Homo sapiens: one gene and its partners. The protein of the gene in region 3 interacts with the protein of the main gene of each other region in a biochemical or structural test. Each region holds a gene or a part of one and is shown on either strand. Other genes may lie near its edges.

The links.
Region 1: of the proteins of SUFU (region 3) and FBXL17, one has a biochemical effect on the other in vitro, tested with the Homo sapiens proteins (2 studies listed by BioGRID, with this or other methods).
Region 2: the proteins of SUFU (region 3) and GLI2 form a complex in vitro, tested with the Homo sapiens proteins (one study listed by BioGRID).

Annotation. Positions count from the first base shown.
Region 1 is NC_000005.10:108,379,087-108,386,696, forward strand, and holds the start of FBXL17 (F-box/LRR-repeat protein 17), read right to left. Parts: upstream 3,013-7,610; 5' UTR 2,606-3,012; coding exon 1,613-2,605; intron 1-1,612. UniProt on the Homo sapiens protein: Substrate-recognition component of the SCF(FBXL17) E3 ubiquitin ligase complex, a key component of a quality control pathway required to ensure functional dimerization of BTB domain-containing proteins (dimerization quality control, DQC).
Region 2 is NC_000002.12:120,731,829-120,738,879, reverse strand, and holds the start of GLI2 (zinc finger protein GLI2), read right to left. Parts: upstream 3,013-7,051; 5' UTR 2,595-3,012; intron 2,320-2,594; exon of another isoform or gene 1,219-2,319; intron 1-1,218. UniProt on the Homo sapiens protein: Functions as a transcription regulator in the hedgehog (Hh) pathway. Functions as a transcriptional activator. May also function as transcriptional repressor. Requires STK36 for full transcriptional activator activity.
Region 3 is NC_000010.11:102,590,963-102,597,981, forward strand, and holds part of SUFU (suppressor of fused homolog), read left to right. Parts: intron 1-1,619; coding exon 1,620-1,762; intron 1,763-2,673; coding exon 2,674-2,759; intron 2,760-3,030; coding exon 3,031-3,103; intron 3,104-6,174; coding exon of another isoform or gene 6,175-6,177; coding exon 6,178-6,331; intron 6,332-7,019. UniProt on the Homo sapiens protein: Negative regulator in the hedgehog/smoothened signaling pathway. Down-regulates GLI1-mediated transactivation of target genes. Down-regulates GLI2-mediated transactivation of target genes. Part of a corepressor complex that acts on DNA-bound GLI1.

The sequences.
Region 1 (7,610 bases), on a different chromosome or scaffold from region 3:
AGAACAACGCGGTATAGGATAAGTTTATTTTATTCTATTAGAGTTTCTCTTTATTATGAGATCATGTCCCTTTTTTTTCTCGGCATTAAAATGTTTTTTACCTCATGAAATAATTTGTAAGTAGAAGGTACCTGGCTTTGTTTTGGTTCATTTTGAAACAGTCTTATTTGCCAAATAAGAAGACAGCAATCAAGTTTCTATACCAAATATTTGTTGATATTTTATTTATCCATATCACCCAGTGATTTAAAGGACTCAAGAAAGTTCCCTTTGTCCTAAAATGCACCTCTGCACACAAAGAGTAGGCAATTACTCTTCCAACAAGTAGACCTCCATAAGAATTAGATCATTACATTTTGACACAAGGAAATGTAAGTTTTCCCACCCTCTTGCTGTATCACTCACAAGAACAATAATATCACTGTAAAACAGACCCAAACACACAGTACTGTAAATATGCAAAAAGTCTAGTCAAAGAAACTATATTGGTGACAATAACAATTGTAATTAATGACAGTTACTTCAGTAACGGTAAAAGTAGCCAAATTCTTATCAAGGTTATTTATGGCTAGTCTCTAGTATCATCCACAATGAAAATGGTTTATATTTATTAAGCTCCAAATAGGGTAGGGTGGGAGAAGAGAGAAAAGGAGGGAAAAAGTTAATAATAACTTAATAAAAACTCTATTATGTAACTAAAGTTTGTCACTAGCATTGACAAAACTGCAAAATATTCTTGGTAGTTGAAAATGACACAAACTTCATGCAGGACACCCATCTCCCAACAAAAAATACATCTGTGCTTACCTCTGGTAATCTGTATGCTTTTATGCAAGGGTTAAAATGTAGAAGGGCATTACAACATAGCATAAACAAAGAGGTTTTTAAGTCAGGTGGTCTTAAATTCCCTCATTCAAGACCTAGATCTACCCTTTACTTTCTGTATGTGACCTTGCACAAGTCATTCAACCACTTCAAGCCCCACTAGACTGTCAGCTCCACAGGAGCAAAGACCACTTCTGCCTGACTCACTACTATAAACCGTGGCCCACAGCACGGAGAAATCAGTTTCTTCCTGTATAAAATAAAGATATTAACAGTATTTATCTCGAAGCGTTAACTAGATAAATGGGATATTATATATATAAAGTCTGGCGCAGTGCCTGATTATGGTAAATGCTCAGTAAGTTAACCGTTTGACATTAACTACCAGCCATCAAACATGAAAGTAATGTTTAAAGACTTTCAAACACCAACATGCAAAGCCTTTACCCACTAAGTATAAATTCCTCGATTAAAAAATTTTTTTTTCCACAGAATACCTGCGAAGTTTCTAAACCACTGGGTTGGGATTCTAATAATAGCTGAACCCTGAATGGTGGGTTATAGAGTCAAGCTATTAAAAGACATTCAGTAGACTCCAAGTGCTCCTACTTCAAAAAATAGGCCATAGGCAGAGGCCCCACTGGCTTCCCAGTCTCCCCTTGGGACGTCCCTAGGCTGCCAGGGAACCCCCCTCCTCCGCGCTTAGGGGGAGGAGAGAGAAAGCCTCGGAGGCGGGGGCCGGGGGTGGGGGAAAGCGAGCATCCCTGCGCCTCTCGCCCAGACCCACCTTGAGCAGGATGGACGGCGGCAGCTGGTTGATGTCTGGGGTTTCGGGGGGCGGCTCCCTGTGACAGTCGCAGGGGTTTTCGGGGGACTCCCGACAGTCCGCGTCGCCACATTCATGCTGCTGCTGGGCGGACAAGGGGGCGGTGCCCCCGGCTCGGACAGCGTCCCCGCCAGCTTCGGTGGGGGCACCTTCGGAGGTGGGAGAAGAGGGCGGAGGGCAGAGCGGCTGCGGGGGCTGCTCCGGGGCCTGGCAGCAGCCGGCGTCGGGGGGCCGGGGCGGCGAAGCGCCTCCCCCCGCAGGCCCTCCCCCGCCACCGCCGCCGCCGCCGCCGCCGCAGCCCCCGCCGCCGCAGCGGGGCTGCTTGCAGGGGGTGCAGGCGGGGACCCCGGCCCCCTTCCGCTTGCACACCATTTCGGGGGGCGTAGGGAGCTCGGCCGGTGACGGTGTCGGCCCCCGGAAGAGCTGCACGGCGGCGGGCGGCCCCAGGAAGCGCACCGGCCCCAAGCTGGCCAGGAAGAGACTTCGGCCCTGCTGCTCCCAGGCGGCGGCCGCAGCCAGCCCCAACTCTTTGCAGCAGGAGGCGGGCGACGAAGCCGAGGCGGCAGCGGCGGCGGCGGCGGCGGCCGAGGATAGCAGGAAGCGGCGGGCAGCAGCGGCGCAGTCCTCGGCGGCCAGGGCCGCGTAGCGCCGCGCCAGGTGCTGAGAGGAGGAGGCGGCAGCGTAGGCCCCGTCCCGCGGCGGCGGCGAGAGCGGCGGCTCCTCCTCTGGGCCGGCGGGGGCGGGCGCGCCGGGACTGTGCACGATGAAGCAGAGCATGCAGGGCCCGCGGAAGAAGCAGTCCCGGCTCCGGGGCGCCGCCGGCTGAGGGGGCACCTTGGCTGGGGTCCGGCGGGGCAGCCTGAGGAGAGGGCGCCGGCGGCGGCACCAACTGCAACAGCGAGGCCTCTTCTGGCTCGGGCGGTTACGCGGCTCCTTCGAGAGAAGGTGGCCCATATAGAAGGCCCCGAGGAGGGGGACCGGGACGGGAGGGAGGGAGACCCAGAGAGGCGGGCTCCCGGCAGCGGGGCAGGCCGCTCGCTGGCTCGGCCCCCGGAGGGGTCGCCCTTCCTGCGCACACACACGCACACACGGGCACACACGCGACGGTGGGGGGTGGGCGTCAGCTGCGGGCCGCCGGAGTGCCCGACGGGGGCTACATGCTTTGCCCAGGGAAGCCGGGAGAACGATGGGCGCGAGCTTTGGGGACGCGAGGGAGGGAGCGAGCGAGCCTGCCGGCTAGGCGACCAGTCCGGGCCCGGCCAGCCGGCTCAGTCAGTCAGCGGAGCGGCCGGGGAAAGGCCGGGTCCCGCTCGGACCATTTTAACTGCGGATCCGCCGCCGGCGCGCGCACCCGCGACTCTGCTCGGAGCCGCAGGAGCGCGCGGCCCGTTCCGGCAGGGGGCGGAGCCAGTTGCGGTGGCGCGCTCGTGGCGGGGACGCCGGCACCCGGCTGCTCACCCGGGACGGCCGTCACACCGGCACTACGGGAAGAAGCCGGCCGGCTAGGGCACGGAGCTCTGGGCTTGCGGGGTGCGGCGCACGCCCCTCCCTCCCACCGCCTAAGGTTTTTCCGAAGCTGCTGGGCGTGCGCCGCGTTTCTGAGGCGGGAGGAGACACTTCCGAGCCAGCTGTGTGACATCCGTTTACACAGCCGCGCTGACGTCTCGAGGTGTAAGTTCAAGAGCTGCCATTGGCCGGGAGCCGCTGGGCTCTTCCCCTCACCTTCCACCCCTGTCACCACCCCTGACTCGGAAACCGAGGCCACTTCGAAGCCGCGAGGCGGGTTCCGCCGGAAGGGCCAGTGTGGGCGCTGACCGCGCTTCGGGCAGAGTGGCAGATGCGGCCCCTGGGTGATGCGCACCGAAGTCATGTGAGGGGTTGATTGGTTGTGCGGCACCACTGTTTACCCACTTGTGTTTTCTTAATTGTTGCGTACTACTGCCTTTCCACAACTTTATTTCAGAATGAAAGCATATATCAAATTACCTGTGCACAGCAGAAAGATAACAGCTTCCCCACCCAGTGAGCCATTCAACACCCAGGCTACAAACTGTAGATCACTTTATTGTCTACACCCTCGGAATCCTGTCTAGCCGTCTGTTGTATATTTTAAACATGACGGTGCAGTGCCTGCTATATGACAAACGTTGGTGATCCAGATGAGAAAGAGGAAACAGCTATGCAGGCAGTCCTTTAGAAGGTTTGACTATATCGAGGCTAAAGAGCTAGGGCAGCTGCTAGAGCGGTACCTGGTGCGGAGAGGTTAGCTTTCACAAGCGAAAAATTAGAGGAGGCAAATACCATGGGAATGAGCCACTCTAGTGAGAGAAATAAGAGGAGAAGGTGGAATGGAGAGTGCTTTAGGAAGGATACTTTCTTCATTGTGATTACAGAGAATGAGGAAAGGTAGATAAAGGACGGATACAGAGAGGTGGATGTTTCTAGCAGGAAGGTGAAAGAGTTCCTTTCTGTTGGTTTCTGTTTTGCTTCAGATAGAGCTTGGTTACCTGCTGAAGGGTGGAAGAGAAGTGGCAGGTGTTTAAAAAAAAATCTGCTAAGGATAACTTGAGAGAGCTGACTGAGGAAGAAGTATTGCAATATTCAAGGCCCAGTGGCTTGGAGAAGACCACTGTTGGAACCTACATTGCTATTCCCACTATAGTGGCCAGCCCCACCCAGCCTGCTCTCAAACATGCTGTCAAACAATTGTTAATTCTGGCCTTTTTGTCAGAAATGACCAATCTTAAGTCTGTCACATTCAGGGATCCTTTCAGAGCCTAATGACAGTTATGTGGAATTCTAGAAGCAAATATTTGTCAAAAGATTTCACAGACATACACGCTATTCACTATCAAATGCATTGCCTGAACGACATTTACGTACACATATAATCCACATAACTTTCATCCATTTGCCTGTAGGAGAATCTTCCAGGGCCCCAGAGCAGTGCTTGAGGACTTATTACAGATCCTTTGACATCTCTACTAGGCTGCACTTTCACAAAAGGCAAGAGTATTATAAAGTGTTTTGTAACTTTATGTCAAAAATATGAACCTGTCAGAGCCAGATGTGGTGGTACCTATCATTCAAACTACAACAGGGCTGGTGAGGCGTGAGGATCGCTTAAGCCCAGCTTGTTATGATTATGCATGTGAATAGCCACCGTAGTCCATCTTGAGCAGCGTAGCGAAACACAGTCTCTTAAAAAAAATTGCGACCTATACATTTCATATAAGTTAAATACACATCTTCCCTATGAGCCAGCAATCCCACATCTAGGTATTTATCCAGAGAAATAAAAGCATATATCGATAAAAAGACATGTACAAAAATGTCCGTAACAACTTTATTCATGGTCACCAAAAACTATAAACTGCCCAGATGTCCATCAGTGGGAGAACGGATTAATAAACTGATATATTCATCTAATTAAATACTACTCAGCAACACAAGAGAAAAAGCATGGATGAATCTCAAAAAGTTAGGATGTTTTATGCTTTCTGGATACGGGGCCCTCGAATCGCTACCTGGTAACAGGCTCCCTATGTGATTCCTGTACAGACAGCCTGGCACCATGCAAATGTATCAGAACTACACATACCATCCAACTTCAACTTCTTGTTTTTAGAGATGAAGCAACTGACTCTGAGAGTTCTGAAGTCGTTGCTAAAATTTACAATATTTGTTTCCTTACTCCCAGTTCCTAAACCATTCAACCACAAGCAAATTGTCTTTGGTCTACCTATTGGACTCTGTGCTGACAAAAGATACTTGTTTTTTTATAATTTAGATATTTTGCATGTCTGTTCTCATCACCCACCATCATCACACCACTAGTTCTCCCCAGAAAAAATTTCAGATTCTTTGAGGCTTAGGATTATCTCTAACCCTTCTTTTTATTTCTTTACCACAGCAAATAGCAGAGAGAGTCTTGTATAGTTCATCAGTGATTAAATAAGCTACTACTATTATCAGGAGAGCTGTAATGAGTTTTGGAACTCAGTACCCTAAATAATAATACTAATGTTGTAAATGTTAAAGATACAGAATTATGAATAAGAGTCATAAATTAGAATTATAGAGACAGTTGTAGCAGCTGATGGCTTTGCTAGTTGGGGGGCAGAGAGGGTGGAGTTGCAGTGGAAACCAACTCCGGACAGCCAGGAGCTGGACTGGCACTATTAGCTAGGCATTTGTGGTACTGGCAGCTGTCCTGGCATTCTCAGTTCTCATTGTTTTGTCAAATATAAACAGTCCCACAAAACATCAACATCAGTTATAGTCATTTTATGACTACAATAGGCAAGACAAAAATAAGACCCCTCCACAATCATGTCTGAACACAGCAAATACAAGAACAGTCTCTAAACCACAAAAATGACCAAACATTCTGGTTAATATAAGTGACCACTGTTTCTTGGCCAATTACAGGCTTAGCCTTGATCCATTCTTCCTGCCTTCTAGATAGCAAATATTAAAATATTAAGTTATAGGATCACCTGTTTCCTGCCAGCATCCAATCCAGAGCAAAACCTTGACACTTCCCCAAAATCACCTAACAACACACTCATTCCTGTAATGTTTTTCACAATACCAATACCTTCTTACTGAGAGTGCTCCTGCCCAACTTCGCTCCTCATTGCTCTCTGCCTCCCTGCAACAAGACATTAAACCCACCTTGGTTTGAATCTAGTTGTTTTCCTGCTGCTCTTTAGCTAGAGGGCATTAGCATTTGTTATTATCAAATGTCACCAACCTATCTAAAGTTAATCCCTCCTTTGCCCTTTCCTCTTACCGTTTTTATTTTCTTTATAGCTCATTATCACATTTTTAAAAATTGTTGGTTTGTTCAATTAGAACACAGGCTCCATGAGGACAGGGATTTTGTTCAGTTTTTGGGAAGATAATCAGGCTACTGTGTGGAATACGGACTAGAGGAGAAGCAACCTCTTAGAAGGAAGACCAGTTAAAGTTGTTCAAAGGGTCCATAGAGAAGCCTTAAAAGTATGAATTTAGGGCCGGGTGTGATGGCTCACGCCTTTGATCCCAGCACTTTGGGAAGTCAAAGCGGGCAGATCACCTGAGGTCAGGAGTTCAAGACCAGCCTGACCAACATGGTGAAATCTCACACTACTAAAAATACAAAAATTAGTTGGGCACAGTGGCGCATGTCTGTAATCCCAGCTACTCAGGAGGCTGAGGCAGGAGAATCACTTGAACCTGGAAGGCAGGGGTTGCAGTGAGCTGAGATTGTGCCATTGCACTCCAGCCTGGGCAACAAGTGCAAAACTCCATCTCAAAAAACAAAAAGCAAAACAAAAAAAAGAATGTAGGCATTCTGGGAATAATGAAGTAAGGTTGTTATTGAGAAACATTTCTGATGTGGAGTTGTCAGGATTTAATTCTGAATTGGATAGAGGGAAGGGAATGATGAATATAGGGAGAAAACCCCCAAATTGCTTGTTCTTATGATTTATTTCAATGAATAACTTATGGTGAAATAATGGATTCTATAACGTAAAATAGTTACATATTTGAATAATATTCCAACCTGAGGTAGATTTGAGTTATGGCATACTGAGATTCACACTGAAAACCAGTATATAAATTTAAAATGTGGCAAAAAGGTAAAAAGAAAAGTTTTTTCTTCTTTGCTAACATAGGTTATACTAAATTTGAAATTCACATTTGCTTATAAAAAGACAGCCTTTTGTAAAAGGTTTTCATGCTGCTTGAAGTTGGGTAATGGTGGTTGTGGTAAATAGCTAAAACATCCTATAGCACCAGTGACGCACAAGGAGAACAAAGTTCACATGCCATTGATCCCAGTAATTGTGGTAAATGTGACAGATGGCCTAGAAAGACATTGTCTGATGCATCTTAAAATCATGGAACACCCAGGTGTTCAGTAGATTTAATTCCATATTATATTGTGTTTTTGCTGAAATACTCAAGGCCA
Region 2 (7,051 bases), on a different chromosome or scaffold from region 3:
AGCCACGAGTCAAGAGTCCCCTTCAAGGCCAGAGCAGAATGAGTTTGGGAGCAGCCCGGAAGTCTCTGCTGAAGGAATCTGAACCCACTGCAAATTCAGTCAAATCGATTCCCACAGAGGATAAAACCATCTCTAGCAGTCTTACCTTGTTCCTCGGTGGCTTGGGAGGCTCTTTCTACTATCATTCTAATTCTTTCTACCTATAATTCTAATTCTCTCCAAGAGGCTTTGCAAATAGACCGTTCTGACCACAGTCTCTCACTCAGATGCTAGCCCAACTGAAGGCTGGTTCACCTGAGGGATACCTCCTGGGCAGCTGGGCTCTTTCAAATGCAGGATCTTCCCTGTATTAGCTTAAATCCCCTAAAATCACGAAACAATTTCGTGAAACTGGCATATTTCTCGAAGCAGAGGAGAAAATAAAACCACCCTAAATCTTACCAAATATAATTAACTTTAAAACTCATCAGACAAGCGACAACTTTCCATATGGCTGGGCTTGAGTGGAATTCGAATCCCAGGGAAAAACATCTCCACAATTTCCTGTAACCCTCAAGAGAGAAGCAGCAAGTCTAGGAAAACAAAAGCAAGAACGATGAAGAAAGAGGCACAAGAAGCATAGTCAAAAAGAAGAGAAGGCCCCTGATGGATCTGGATTCCACATTCTAGAATGACTGCCCCAGGACAGACCAGAAGCTGGGAAAAGCCTAAATAAAGAGCCTCCAAACTCAAAGCAGCCAGGCATAGCCAAGGTGCCCCCCGTCCCTGTGGAGTCAGGCCCAGGTAGCCACACCGTGAGCTTCCCCCTAAACAAGCAACTGCAAAGCCGTTCCCAGGCCCCAGGGAGGGCCTGTCCCCAGACACAGGGAAACCCAGCCAAGGGAACTCCCAGCAAGGTAAGGAAATGGGCGGAGAGAAAGCTGGCAGGTGAGGTGGCTGGAACAAACTGGTCTCATCAGGGAGGCCTGTGACAAACCCGCCTATTCCTCCGCTTTCCCCGCTGTATATTTTGGATTTCACAGTTTATTTACTTTACTTTTTGGCACCGAGCCCCCTGAGCATGCCAATACAATATTTGTTTAAACACTATTTTATGCTGCTTGCGAGGGAAACGTTTACTTTCAAATTCTCCTACATCCCCCAGAGCCTCGTCTGCAAACAGCCTATGAGCGTTTTACAACTGCTCCCTTTATCTGAAGCTGTCGGGATTAAACCTTCACACGCCCGGCAAGAGCGGCGGAGAGGGGGCCCGGGACACCGCTGCGGCCACCGAGCTGCAAAGCCCGTGCCAGAGGTCGCGCACCGAGCGGGATGCCCGGGCTGGGGGACAGAGGGACGCCTACAAGACTCCCAGGGCGCGGGACCAGACAGTAGGGACAGGTCTACTTTTCCAGCTGGGATCAACTCTAGGAGCCACAGAACAATTACACAAAAGAGAAGGTAGTGGAAAGAGGCACCCTCGGGGGGGCTCGAGGTCCCCGAGAGCCTCAGCGACCGATCACCCAGGGTGAGGCGCACGGGCTCCATCCCCAGCTCCCCGCGCGGTAAAAGTCGGGTTTCCTAGGAAATGACAGCAGTTACCGCCGGGCTGAAAAGGCGCCGAGCTGGGTGGACTCCCAGCTCTCCAGCGCGGCGGGCGCGCTCACACTCACACACGCAAGCACACGCTCCCTCCCAGCTCCCCGCCCCCGCCCCGTCCGGGGAAAAGACTCCCCTCTCTAAACCCTTAATAGGATTGGCGCCCAACTCTCTCCGCGCCTCTCCCCATCCATCACATACAGATCAAGTTGCAGTAGTGGATTTTTCAAATTCCTCAGCAAATATACTTGTTGAGAGATTGTCGGGGGTGGGGAGAGACGATGAGTAGGGGGGCAGGGATGAAAGTGAGGTGGAAGGGGGAACCGGAGGACCCGGCAAAGGATTACGTGCGGATCCCTTTGGGAAGTCAAGCGGATCTCAGGGCCGAGGGCAGGAGAGGAGGAGAAGAGAGGCAAAGAGGGGGGGCCGAGGAGGAGAGCCCAGCAGAGGGGGAGGGGGCGGCCGGGCCGGGCGAGGGGGAGGAAGGATTGAGGAAGGAAGAAAGAAAGGCAGGGCTCCGGGACGCGCAGCGCGGAGAAGTGGAGTTCGAAGTTCTCAAGTGGCTGGCTGCAGCCCCTCCGCGCTCAGTACGCCCGCAGACACGCTCCCATGCCCACCTACGGCAGCTTCGGAGCATCCCAGCCTCCGATCCCACCCTCCACCCCCTGAAAAAACAGACCCCCGCCGGCGCGCGGAGGCCGGCTCGCTGTGCACCCCGAGAAGAGTGGTGCTCTCCCCCAGGTAGGGAGAGGGTGCAACATCGACCTCTGGCCACGAGCTCCAAGCCCCAGGACTCTCCTTACGTCCCCGCCCTGCTCGTCCAGAGCCCCAGGCGGGGTCGCGCCTACTAGCCTCTAGTCCCCCGAAGCCCAGGGCCCCGATCCCAAGGCCTAGGCGCCGGTACCCGGCCGAGGGACCCCCCGAGACGGCGCAGCATCCCAGTCGGCCCGCGCTTGGCCGAGGTGGGAGGCGCTTCGTCACGAAAAGCAAGCAAAAGAAGGCCAATGCAACTTTACCGAGAGAGACAAAAGTTTGCCTCTAGCACGCAGGTGGCCTCTCGGGCGCCGGGCGGTGGCTGTGGGCCCCCATCCCACCTTGGCTGGCGCGGCGACCCTCGGCTGGCTGCCTTGTGCCGGGGCTCCAGCCAGCCGGGGCGGGGCGGGCCAGGCAAGAGAGGGGACCGAGAGGCGGGCGGGCGCCGCGCAGCCCCTACCGCCGGCGAGCAGGCGGCTCCCCGAGGCTGCGGCGCGCCGCGCGGCCCAAGCTCTTTCCTCCGGCTCCTCCTGCGGCTCCTGGCCTTCCTCCGCGTTCGCAGTCGCAGCCGCCGCCGCCGCCCGCTCCTCCTCGAAGTCTCATTGATGGGAGTTTGAAAAAAAGTCCGCGGAGCCGTGCTGCCTCGGCTGGCAAGCGCCGGCACTTCTGCAATCCATCAGCGCCGCCGGACTGCGCAGCGCCCCCGCGCGCACGGTGCGGGCACACCCGGGCCCCAAGAACCCGCCAGCCAGCCCGCCCGCTCCCTGCCGGGGGACGCAGGGGGACCCGAACGCCGCCGGGGCGGGGGGAGGGGAAAGGGGGAGCACAGGGACTCTCCCCACCCAGCACCAAGGAAAGAAAACGCACCTACAAGGAAAGTTCGAGAAAGGAACCAAAGGACGCGCCAATCTCCGACACTTTTTTTAGACGACTAGGTGTGGGGGGGGGGGTTGGGGGTGTCGCTAACTCAAGTCAGATGAGCTCCGGAGCTGAGGGGCAAGGGCTGCTCTGTTTTCAATCTCTGAAATCCCCCCGCCCTCCCCACCTCCCACTTCCCTCCTCGGGGAGATGCCTGGGTCGCTGTTCCCAGGGCGCCCGCTTCTCTGGACGCCCGCGCGGAAGCCGGGGACGCCAGAGAAGGGACGCGGGGGCTGGGTCCACGCGGACCCTCTTCCCGCGGGCAGCGAGCGCAGGTGCCGGGGGTCCTGAGGCGTCCCCCGCCGCCGCTAGCCCTCGTCGCCATCTGAGCACACGCTGGCGAGAAACGAAGCAGCCTTCTAGGTTTGGTGCATGTGGCTTGCAGGGTGGGTTTTTGTTTTGTTGTGTTGTGTGTTTTAGAGACTCCACTCGAGCCGCTGAAGCCAGATGGAAGTAATCAGAACCCAACAACAACAGAGAAAGAAGGAAGAAAAAACTCCTCATTGAATTTTCTAGCCAAAGTGTATATGGGGCTGTGTGTGAAAGAACTTGCTTAAGCAAGCTCAGTGAGGAGCCCTGGGCCCTCAAGCCACACCACAGCCCGGAACTGGGCCGCCAGGCTTGGAGGAGAATTGGGGGCAGCTGGCTAAAGTGTCCTCCCCACACCCCCGGGCCTGCCACCCTCTCCAGGGCCCCTGGGCCTCACCCGAAGAGGGTCTTGGGGGGAATTTCTGGTTTTATTCTTCCTAACGTTTGTAGAACACTCTACCAAGTGCCAGGTGATGTTATATTTTCTTTGTATTATTGGACTTTCACAGCTCTGTAAGGAAGGTTCTCTTCTCGTGTTTTTACAGGTGGGAAGTCTGATGCTTTAAAAAGTTAAGTAACTAGTCTAAGGTCAGAGCACTCTGCCATCCTCCCAGAGCTTCGGGTGGTTGTACTGTAAGTTCAGTTAAATTTGCCCTGTTGGGCCGGGCGCGGTGGCTCACGCTTGTAATCCTAGCACTTTGGGAGGCCGAGGCACGGGGATCACCTGAGGTCAGGAGTTCAAGACCAGCCTGGCCAACATGGTGAAACCCCGTCTCTACTAAAAATACAAAAAATTAGCCAGGGATAGTAGCGCGCGCCTGTAATCCCGGCTACTTGGGAGACTGAGGCTGGAGAATCTCTCAAACCCCTTGGGAGATGGAGGTTGCAGTGAGCCATGATGGCGCCACTGCACTCCAGCCTGGGTGATGGAGCGAGACTCTGTCTCAAAAAAATAAATTAATTAAATTAAATTTTTAAAAAATTGCCCTGTTGAGGTGGGTGGAAGTGTCTCTCCCTTCAGCCCCTGTTCCTAAAATTGCATTTTATTTGAAATGCAAGGGACCCAATGCTACCCTCCCTGAGGGGATGTGACCTACACAGGCCCATTTCACCGGTGCAACCCTTTTTGTGGGTGGCTCTCTCCATATACCTTTTATCCTCTGCTAACTTTATTCTTTTACTTTTTAATCAAAGAGGATGCATTAGAACTTCATTCCTTAAGATCCTCCTTCCTCCTCCTGACATTCACTTATATGATGGAGCAACAATTTCTTCTTGACCTAGAGAAAAAAATATGCAGAAAAATATTAGAACAATTTGATGCTAATTTTGTTTGGGGGGAAAAGGTCGGCAGCATTTTTAAAAAGCGAAACTTGCATAAGCCAATGATTTAAAGAGAAGTTTGAAAGGGGCTTTTTCTTTAAAGATGATCAGATTCACCATTCCTCCGTGCTATTTGTTTAAATTCCTGCTGAGCTTTCAGAACACAGACTCTAAGGAGACAGAAAAAGTAAACTCTCCCTCCCCTCCTTGGCCATATTTTAATGACCCTATTCATATCTGCCCCATGACATGTAGGGAATCATTTCTCATTGCTGGAATATTAGCCGCGTTGGCTGATTACTTCATTATGAGCTTGTCTCTGTTGATTTCCTTGTGTTGTAAAGTTTGTGAAGAAGTTTAAACAAATCAATGTTTTAGGATATTTCCTTCTTCTCTGTTTTTCTTCTCAGACCAGCTCAACTCCTGCTGGACTCCAGGCACTCACATAACCTTTCCCGGCTTATTTTGGCAAGAAGATGGCTGTCGAGATGAAGACAGAATGTTTTTTGGTTGGAGGAGAACTCTGTAGACACCGTGCCTGAATCTCTAGATGGTCAGAAGTTTGGGCGCTGAAAAAAGCAGCAGAAGGTTTGGAGTGGAGGCAAACTGGTGTGGCCAGGGAAGCCTTCGACTGAGCGCTGGGACACCAGGTCCTAGTCCCAGATCTGGTACTAAGTGTATGACCTTTGGCCAGTCTGGTTCATTCAATCAGTACCAGGCACTGTGCTAAGTGGCTCGACACCACAGTGAGCAACACCTACAAGATCTTTCCCCTTAGGGAGCTTATGTTTCATTAATAACCACAAACAAACATATAATCACAAACTGGGTAAAGGAAAATCCACCGTGCTGTGGGAGCCGGTGATTGGAGACCTGAGCAAGCTGGGAGGTGAGCTTGGGGAGGGGAGTGGTACAGAGAAGGAGAACGCTTTCCTGGGGAGATGAGGTTGCACTGATAAGAAGGAATGAGGAATGAGGGAGGGTGGACTAGGAGAAGGGGAAGTGGAGTGTTCCAGTTCTTCCTTCTCCCTTTCTGTGAAATGGGCCTGAATGACGAGAAAAACCAGGCCCAAAAGGAAGCAGCTTGTTCATTATTTCCCCGTATTCTAGTGACTAGTCATAGAACAAATCACCCGCAAACTCAACGGAAGGAAACAACCATTTCTTATGTTCGTGGCTTCTGCACATCAGGATTTTGAACGAGGTATAACAGGGGCAGTTTGTCTCTGCTCCACAGTGTCAGGCCTCCACTGGAAAGCTTCAGGGCTGAGGCTGGGATCCTCTGAAGACTCTGGCTCCGCTGCCTGGCGGTCTGTGCTGACTGTTGGCTGGTGGGGGGCCTCAGTTCCTTTCCATGCACCTCTTCATGTGGTCTCTTTACTCAGGCTAGTTGGGGTCCCTCATAGCACGGTGGTAACTAATATGCAGGGCGAGCTTAACAAGAACCAGCCAGGGAGAAGGCCTTTGGTCTTCTATGAAACCTCGGCAGGCACACCGTATCACGTCAGTGCACTCTATTCTTCAGGGCAGACACAGAGATCTGCCTCGGTTAAGGGGAGGGAAAATAGACTCCATCTCTCTTCTTTTTTTTTTTTTCAGACGAGTCTTGCTCTGTTGCCCAGGCTGGAGTGCAGTGGCGCCATCTCTGCTCACTGCAACCTCTGCCACCAGGGTTCAAAGGATTCTCCTGCCTCAGCCTCCCAAGTAGCTGGGATTACAGGCACGCACCACTACACCTGGCTAATTTTTGTATTTTTTAGTAGAGATGGGGTTTCACTATGTTGGCCAGGCTAGTCTCAAACTCCTGACCTCAAGTGATCCACCTGCCTCGGCCTCCCAAAGTGCTGGGATTACAGGCATGAGCCACCACACCAGGCTAGACTCCATCTCTTGAGGGGGAGTGGCATGATTCTGAAAAAGCACCTGGGAGCAGAAAGGTTGCTGTGGCTGTTTTTGGAAAACACAGTCTGCTACACATGGCTAACTGGAGACCCGTGGAAGACTAGATAGGCTCTGAGATAGGTGTACTGCTTCATGGTTAGGCTACAAAGCCTGTGTCTTCATCCACTCAGGCTGCTATAACAAAACACCCTAGACTGGGTAATTTATAAATGACAGAAATTTACTACTCACAGTTCTGGAGTCTGGAAAGTCCAAGATCAAGGCACCA
Region 3 (7,019 bases):
TGAAGCAGTCTTCCTTCTCCTGCCTGAATGAACACTATTGAGGTTAGGACCAATAACTGAAGCCGTATCTTGGATGGAAAAGGTGTGTCTGTGTGTGTATGTGTGTGTTCTGCCTTACCTTAAATATTGATAAAAAGTGAAGAAAGATACCTCAACTGTTGAGATTCCGAGATCGTGAATGACAGACCATAGTGAACTCTGGAACAGCCATTTAAAGAATGAGATAGCTCTCCATATGCTGAGAAGCAGTGATCTCTGCTGGGTGCTGTGGCTCATACTTGTAATCCCCGCACTTTGGGAGGCCGAGGAGGGCGGATCACGAGGTCAGGAGATCGAGGCCATCCTGGCTAACACCGTGAAATCCCACCTCTACTAAAAATACAAAAAATTAGCCAGGTGTGGTGGCACATGCCAGTAATCCCAGCTACTCAGGAGGCTGAGGCAGGAGAATCGCTTGAACCCAGGAGGCGGAGGTTGCAGTGAGCAGAGATCGCGCCACTGCACTGCAGCCTGGCAACAGAGCGAGACTCCATCTCAAAAAAAAAAAAAAAAGGTGATCTCGTGCTCACTTCAGCAGCACATATACTAAAATTGGAACGATACAGAGAAGATTAGTATGGCCCCTGCGCAAGGATGACATGCAAATTCGTGAAGTGTTCCATATTAAAAAAAAAAAGGTGCTGTCTAAGATATATAATTAAGTGAAATCTGCAGAATAGTGTGCTTCCATTTGTGTAAGGACAAAACATGGAAGGGAGCCTGTGGATGCATAGGCTGGACATATAGAGCACCTTGGCACCCACGATGAGAGTCAGAGCTGGTGAGAGACTTAGTACCCTGTGGGGTTGTTTTCCCTTGTGGTTATGTGGCCTTAAACAAAACTCTCTCTAAAGTAACGTACCTGCTTGAAGTGCAGTGGTGAGCCTGTGTGTGAGGAGGCTATGCCCTCATGGCAACAGCTACCCTTGGCAGAATCTGAACATCTCAGAGACATGGCCTGAGGATCCTCATGAGTTGTCTCTGCCACGGTGTGGGAGGCACTATTTAGACCTCCATTTACTTGAAGCCTAGTGTTCCTCAGGAATTCCTACATCTGCCTGTGGGAAAATGGTGATAGATTTCAAAGGCTCTCCAAGGTTCGATGTTTCCTTCTGAGTGCCATTTCAGCAACATAGGAATTTCGGTCTGTTTCTCCAAGGTGAAGGGCTTTCATTGCCCTGTTGCCTCTCTGTGGACTTCTGGCCAGGTGGCCCTACAGAAAAGCACCTTATTCTTTCTTGGCAGATCCAGTCATGGCTCCTGCCTCCCACCATGAGTCGGGATATTGGGGAAGCGAAGCAGATGCCAGAAGTCTTTCTGGTTTCCCAGGCCGAAGGAGCTTTCACACTAATAGCCTGTCCTTTTCAAGTCTGACAGAACTGGCAAGCAGGAACAATTTAGGTTTTTGGAAATATCCACAAACTCTTTGCTTCCATCCGGAGTGAATGCTTCTCTTCCTTCACAGGGGCTACCCTAAGAGGCTGGGAAGCCTCCCAGCCTGGGCTAGTGAGATCCCAGCCCAGATTCCAGGCCTGGATCTGGGGCCTTGAACAATGAGGATCCTTGTATCTCTCCCACAGAGAACACCTTCTGCAGTGGGGACCATGTGTCCTGGCACAGCCCTTTGGATAACAGTGAGTCAAGAATTCAGCACATGCTGCTGACAGAGGACCCACAGATGCAGCCCGTGCAGACACCCTTTGGGGTAGTTACCTTCCTCCAGGTGAGGCACAGGTTGGACGCTGGCTCAAGCCTTCCTGTGGGAAGGGTCCTGGGAGGACAAGGAGGCTTGAGGAGGGGGAGTGAAGGGAGTGGGAGGTTTCCTTTGGCCTCGTCCTGATTTCTGTTTCCTCTGATGGTTTGTCAGGTAGATTCAGATGGTCTGATTTAACCTGCTGAGATGGGAGAGGGGAGAAAGGGAAGGGGGCATTTGGTTGGGAGAGAATGGCTGTAGCTGAGAGGGAGTAATGGGGTGGCGGGTATTCTTTGAACAGTGAAGACCCAGTCTCAGGAACAGGACTTTCCAGCGGGAAGCCAGCTCTGGGTCGTCCTTGCTCTTTGCCAGAAGCTGTGGGAACCTGCCCAGCTTTGACCAGTGCTTGTTTTTGGTCACGAAGTCTATGTGAAGGTTCCACTGATTCCCTTGATATTTACACAAAGGCCTATCCCCTAATAAGGAAGGGAGGAGTTTCTCTGCAGGCTGCTATGACCTATTGGTGGTGGTTCCAAGCCTGATAGGTCTCAAAGTCTCTTGTTTACATTCCCCATGATACCAGACTGGGTAGGAATGGCTCCCTGAACCTCCCCTACTTCCAGAGACATGGCCTGAGGACACATCTTGAGTTGCTCAGGCCTTGGTTTTCTCCTTTGTAGCTAAGAGCTAGACTTGGTGTCATCCAGACACAGCAAGGGCAAGGGTCAGGCCTCAGGGCCCACATGTGGACCCAGCCATTTCCCAGCCAGGCAGCCACTCCCTCCTAAGGGAATCATCCAATCTTGGCTGCACCAGCTCCTGAGCACAGATCCTGCCTGTGGTCTCCCAACTGGAGGTGACTCAGAGAGCCTGGGTAGCTGACCTTCTTGGGGTGGGGGGTGGCCATTAACACACAATGGGCTTTCTATCCTGGGCCTCAGATCGTTGGTGTCTGCACTGAAGAGCTACACTCAGCCCAGCAGTGGAACGGGCAGGGCATCCTGGAGCTGCTGCGGACAGTGCCTATGTGAGTACCCATGCAAGGTGGGAGCGCGGCTCCCTGGGCCTGGGGGTGGGAGTCCCTCCACTACCCTCCATGTGGGGCTCCCTCTTGCGTTGTTATTTCAGACCCTGGTTTTTCACATCAGGGCTTCCTGACGACTCACTCCCTGACAGTCCCTGACCACGAACTATTCCCCTGTGTCCTAGGCCTGGGGCAGCAAACAGGGCAGGCTGTAGGCCCAGCCCATCAGCCCCAGACCCTCAGTTACCATTGTATCCCCTTTCCTTGTCCACAGTGCTGGCGGCCCCTGGCTGATAACTGACATGCGGAGGGGAGAGACCATATTTGAGATCGATCCACACCTGCAAGTATGTCTTGAGTGAGGAAAACCTTTCTAGCACCCTGTGCCTAGGCCTCTTCCAAATAACACTGGCTTTCATCCTGGGAAAACAGAGGACCTTTATGTGTGAGTGAGTAGAAATATGGCATCACTTGGAACTTGTCCCCTGAATTCTGCAGAGCACGTAGGGAGCAGAGGTTTCAGCCCAGGAAAGCTAGTCCTCAGACATATGTATTTTGGCATTTTAAAAGGATATTTTTATTGTATGTAAATTATATATTGGCTTAAAAAATTAGATTGCCAGCAATAAAAGATAAGTGTAGTGGATATTGCTTGCTTGCCCAGTATTCATTCTCCTGCCTCCCAGACTTTCTTTTAGGGAGCCACCACGGCCACCACCGCCCTGTACCAGACAGTAGTGTAGGTGATACTGACTCCATGGCTCAGCTGCAGGAGTGAGGGCTGATTGGTCTAATGGTCCTATCCCCATTTTCGCCACATTTTCTATCTTGGACAGTCAGATGCAGAGCTCCTAGCCTGGAAAGATTGGCACCTTAGACACACAGGCTGGCAGCTGCCCACTCCCTGTGGCCCACCTGGACATTGTTTCAGTGTCATCTTTGCTGTTTTAGAAGCATTCCTTTGTCATGCAGGTAAAGTTTGAAAGCCACAAGAACGTAACTGCCTTTTCTTTTTTTGAGACGGAGTTTCGCTCTTCTCACCCAGCCTGGAGTGCAGTGGCACAATCTCGGCTTACTGCAGCCTCCGCCTCCCAGGGTCAAGCAGTTCTCCTGCCTCAGCCTCCCGAGTAGCTGAGATTACAGGCGCCCACCACCACGCCCAGATAATTTTTTGTATTTTTAGTAGAGACAGGGTTTCACCATGTTGGCCAGGCTGGTCTCGAACTCTTGACCTCAGATGATCCGCCCGCCTCGGCCTCCCAAAGTGCTGGGATTACAGGTTTGAGCTAGTGCGCCTGGCCCATAACTGCCTTTCTTATGGGCTTCTCTTGAAGCAGGAGCCACAGACAGCTAATAATGTTACCTGCCTGGTGTCTGGCTCCTTCTACTCCCCTGACCAAATGCAGGTCATTGCCATCTCTAAACCTGCCATGCTTCTGTAAAATATCTGGTAGGCCACAGGCAGTTGCCGGGAGTTCCATGTGTTAGAGCAAGAGAAAGGTGGCAGATGGACATGTAGCCAGCAGCCCCTGAGTTCTTCACTGTAGACTTGTGAGTTCTTGGGCATAAATCCTCTTCATTCACAGATGATGCTCCTCTGTTTTCCTAGTGCCTTTAACACTGAACATTTCAAACTGCTGCCAGGATCCTCTGTTCTCTCTGCTTTAAACTTGGTTTCCTTGTATCTTCTGCATATGCAAGAACCAGGAACCAGGAAGGCTATCTTTCCCTAAGCCCTTGTTCTGTAGCCACACTGGGATCCAGCATGGGGCACTGTGGGCCGTTGTTTGGCCCCTGTCATAAGTGCCAAGTACTAAGAAAGAACCTGGTCCTTTGCACTAGTAGGGTAAACAGCTGTCCTTCCATGCCAAGGGCTGTTCTTCCTAGTCTGCAGGATCCCCTGAGAGCAGCCCACAGGACCCGGAGCACCTAGTGGTCTTTGAAAGCAAGCCAGGGTCCCACAGGAACAAAGGACAGCTTTCTTTCCTGGTGGCTCTGTGCACCAAGTGTGAACTCCTCTGTATTCACTGTGCCTTTCTGGGGCCTGCTTGCTATCAGTCTCTTTAGAGCTGGCATATATTCCTGTGATTCAAGCTCTACACTAACCAGCTGTGTGCCCAAATAAGTCCCTCGCCTTCTGGGTCTTAACTTTTTCTTTTTACTTATAAAGTAAATAGCCCAGACAAGTTGAGCCAAGAATTGTCTGTCTGCAACTCTTTACCTAAGTGAGGGACCCCAGGGCAGCCAGTGCAGAGGAAAAAGCTCAGACTATCCCCTGAGCACACCAGGGTATACATGCTCCCTGCCCAGAGTACACAGAGCGCTTCCCTGCTTAGCCTCTTCCTGCTCGGAACCCACAGCTTTGCCCAGGCCAGCATTAGCACTTGAAAGGAGGAGATGACTGATGGGAAGGAGGCGTCTGGGGCAGAGCCACTTGCTGACTGGTCCCAGGAAATAAGGACAGTACCTGTACTTCTCCCACATGGGGCTTCTGGGCTGATCAGCAGGCCAGTGTGGTACCTGTGGAGCCGGGAAGCACAGATTATTGTTGAGATGCTCAGTCACAAGCTTGATTTGGCCCACATGGACATAGAGCCTTCCAGATGACTTTTAATTCAAGGTCCAGCATCAATGAACTGTGTTTTACCAGAAAATCCAGGGATGTTTTGAGTACAACTCTTCCTTGAAGCCATTTGGAGAGTGTTTGTACTCAGCAGTACCAAGGCCTGCACAAAGGCAGGGTCTCGATGGGGAGAGAAGGGTGTCTGCAGATAGTCACTGCACTCTAGGCCCCCATTTCAGTCTAAGAAATGGGAAGGAATCTCCATCCAGAGTCCTTTGCTAAACAAGGGAACCAATGCATCTAGGGAAGTCCAGCCTTTGTTCTCCAGTGGCTCTTCCCTGTGTGACCACACCCTCTAGCTGTTAGAAGGGGAAACTGCAGGTGTGGCCTGTTGCCTGTGGCAGGCTTCCACCCTGTTTTCTATAGCAGTGACTGGGAGGTTCTGCCTGAAGATCGGGAGGAGAGGAAGGATCACACCTCTCCTCAGAGAAGTAGGCTCTCTCATGGCCACATCAGCCCCACCAGCCAGCGTGGCGGGGACAGGTTTGGGGCTCTGAAACAGGTAGAGGCCATTGTGCTGGAAGGCTGATGGTAGAAGAGATGTTTCCCTTGGGATTTGCATTCCTCCTGGCTTCCCCTAATCCCTGGTTCCCCTGGAGGAGTCCAGGAGCTGGCAGAGACCATCATGCATTGGTAACCAGGGCAGAACAAGGTCAGAGATCCTGCTCTCCAGCATTTGTCCCATGCTCAGCACCACAAGGGCTCAGTAAATACTGTAAGAGCAGTGGCTGAAAGGGTGGTCACCTTGGGTCACCAGTTCTCTGAAAGAACTCTGGCTCTTTGGTTCTTTTCAAGCAGGAGAGAGTTGACAAAGGCATCGAGACAGATGGCTCCAACCTGAGTGGTGTCAGTGCCAAGTGTGCCTGGGATGACCTGAGCCGGCCCCCCGAGGATGACGAGGACAGCCGGAGCATCTGCATCGGCACACAGCCCCGGCGACTCTCTGGCAAAGGTGGGAGCCATCACTCAGCATTCCACCAGCCTTCCTCCTTCCTTTTCCCCAGGGCCTGGTTTCCAGTCTCTCTAGGATGGGTCTCTAACAAAAACAACCCATTCAATAGTTTATTTCCTGGCATGATTTAAACAGCAAGTGAAGTCTTCCAGCAGGGCGGAATTAAGGGAGCTTTATTGGCCCATTCCTAGTTGTGTTTCCTGTGTGTATTTCAAATGCATCACCAGCAGGCACCGTTGTGTTTTAGATATGCCCTTTGCAATCTGAGGTCATGGAGGTGAGTGGAAGCCTCAGAACAGTTACAGGAAAAGTCCATAGTCCACCCAAGTGCAAGAGAAAAGTGTCGGCCACCCACGGAATTGACACAGGGCCCAGCTCTGGCCTGAAGGCCATGCCAGATCCAAGGATCACTCTGGCCTCGGGCCCTCCCAGGCCTTCAACAAATGAGGCCTGAGTGTGAGGCTGGCTTGCAAATTGCCCACCTCCTGTCATATAGATACAGGGTTAGGGGCTGTGGGCAGGGCCTCTGGACCCACCGTGTTCCGGATGGGGTCTTTGGGAAGGAGGATGTGGCTGTCCTGTTGGAATCTCCCTGTGCTGATCTTGGCTACAGAAACAGTTGTGGTTTTTAGTAGAGGGCGTCCCCAGCTAACTGCAAAGGAGAAGCAGCCACTTACATATACATGTG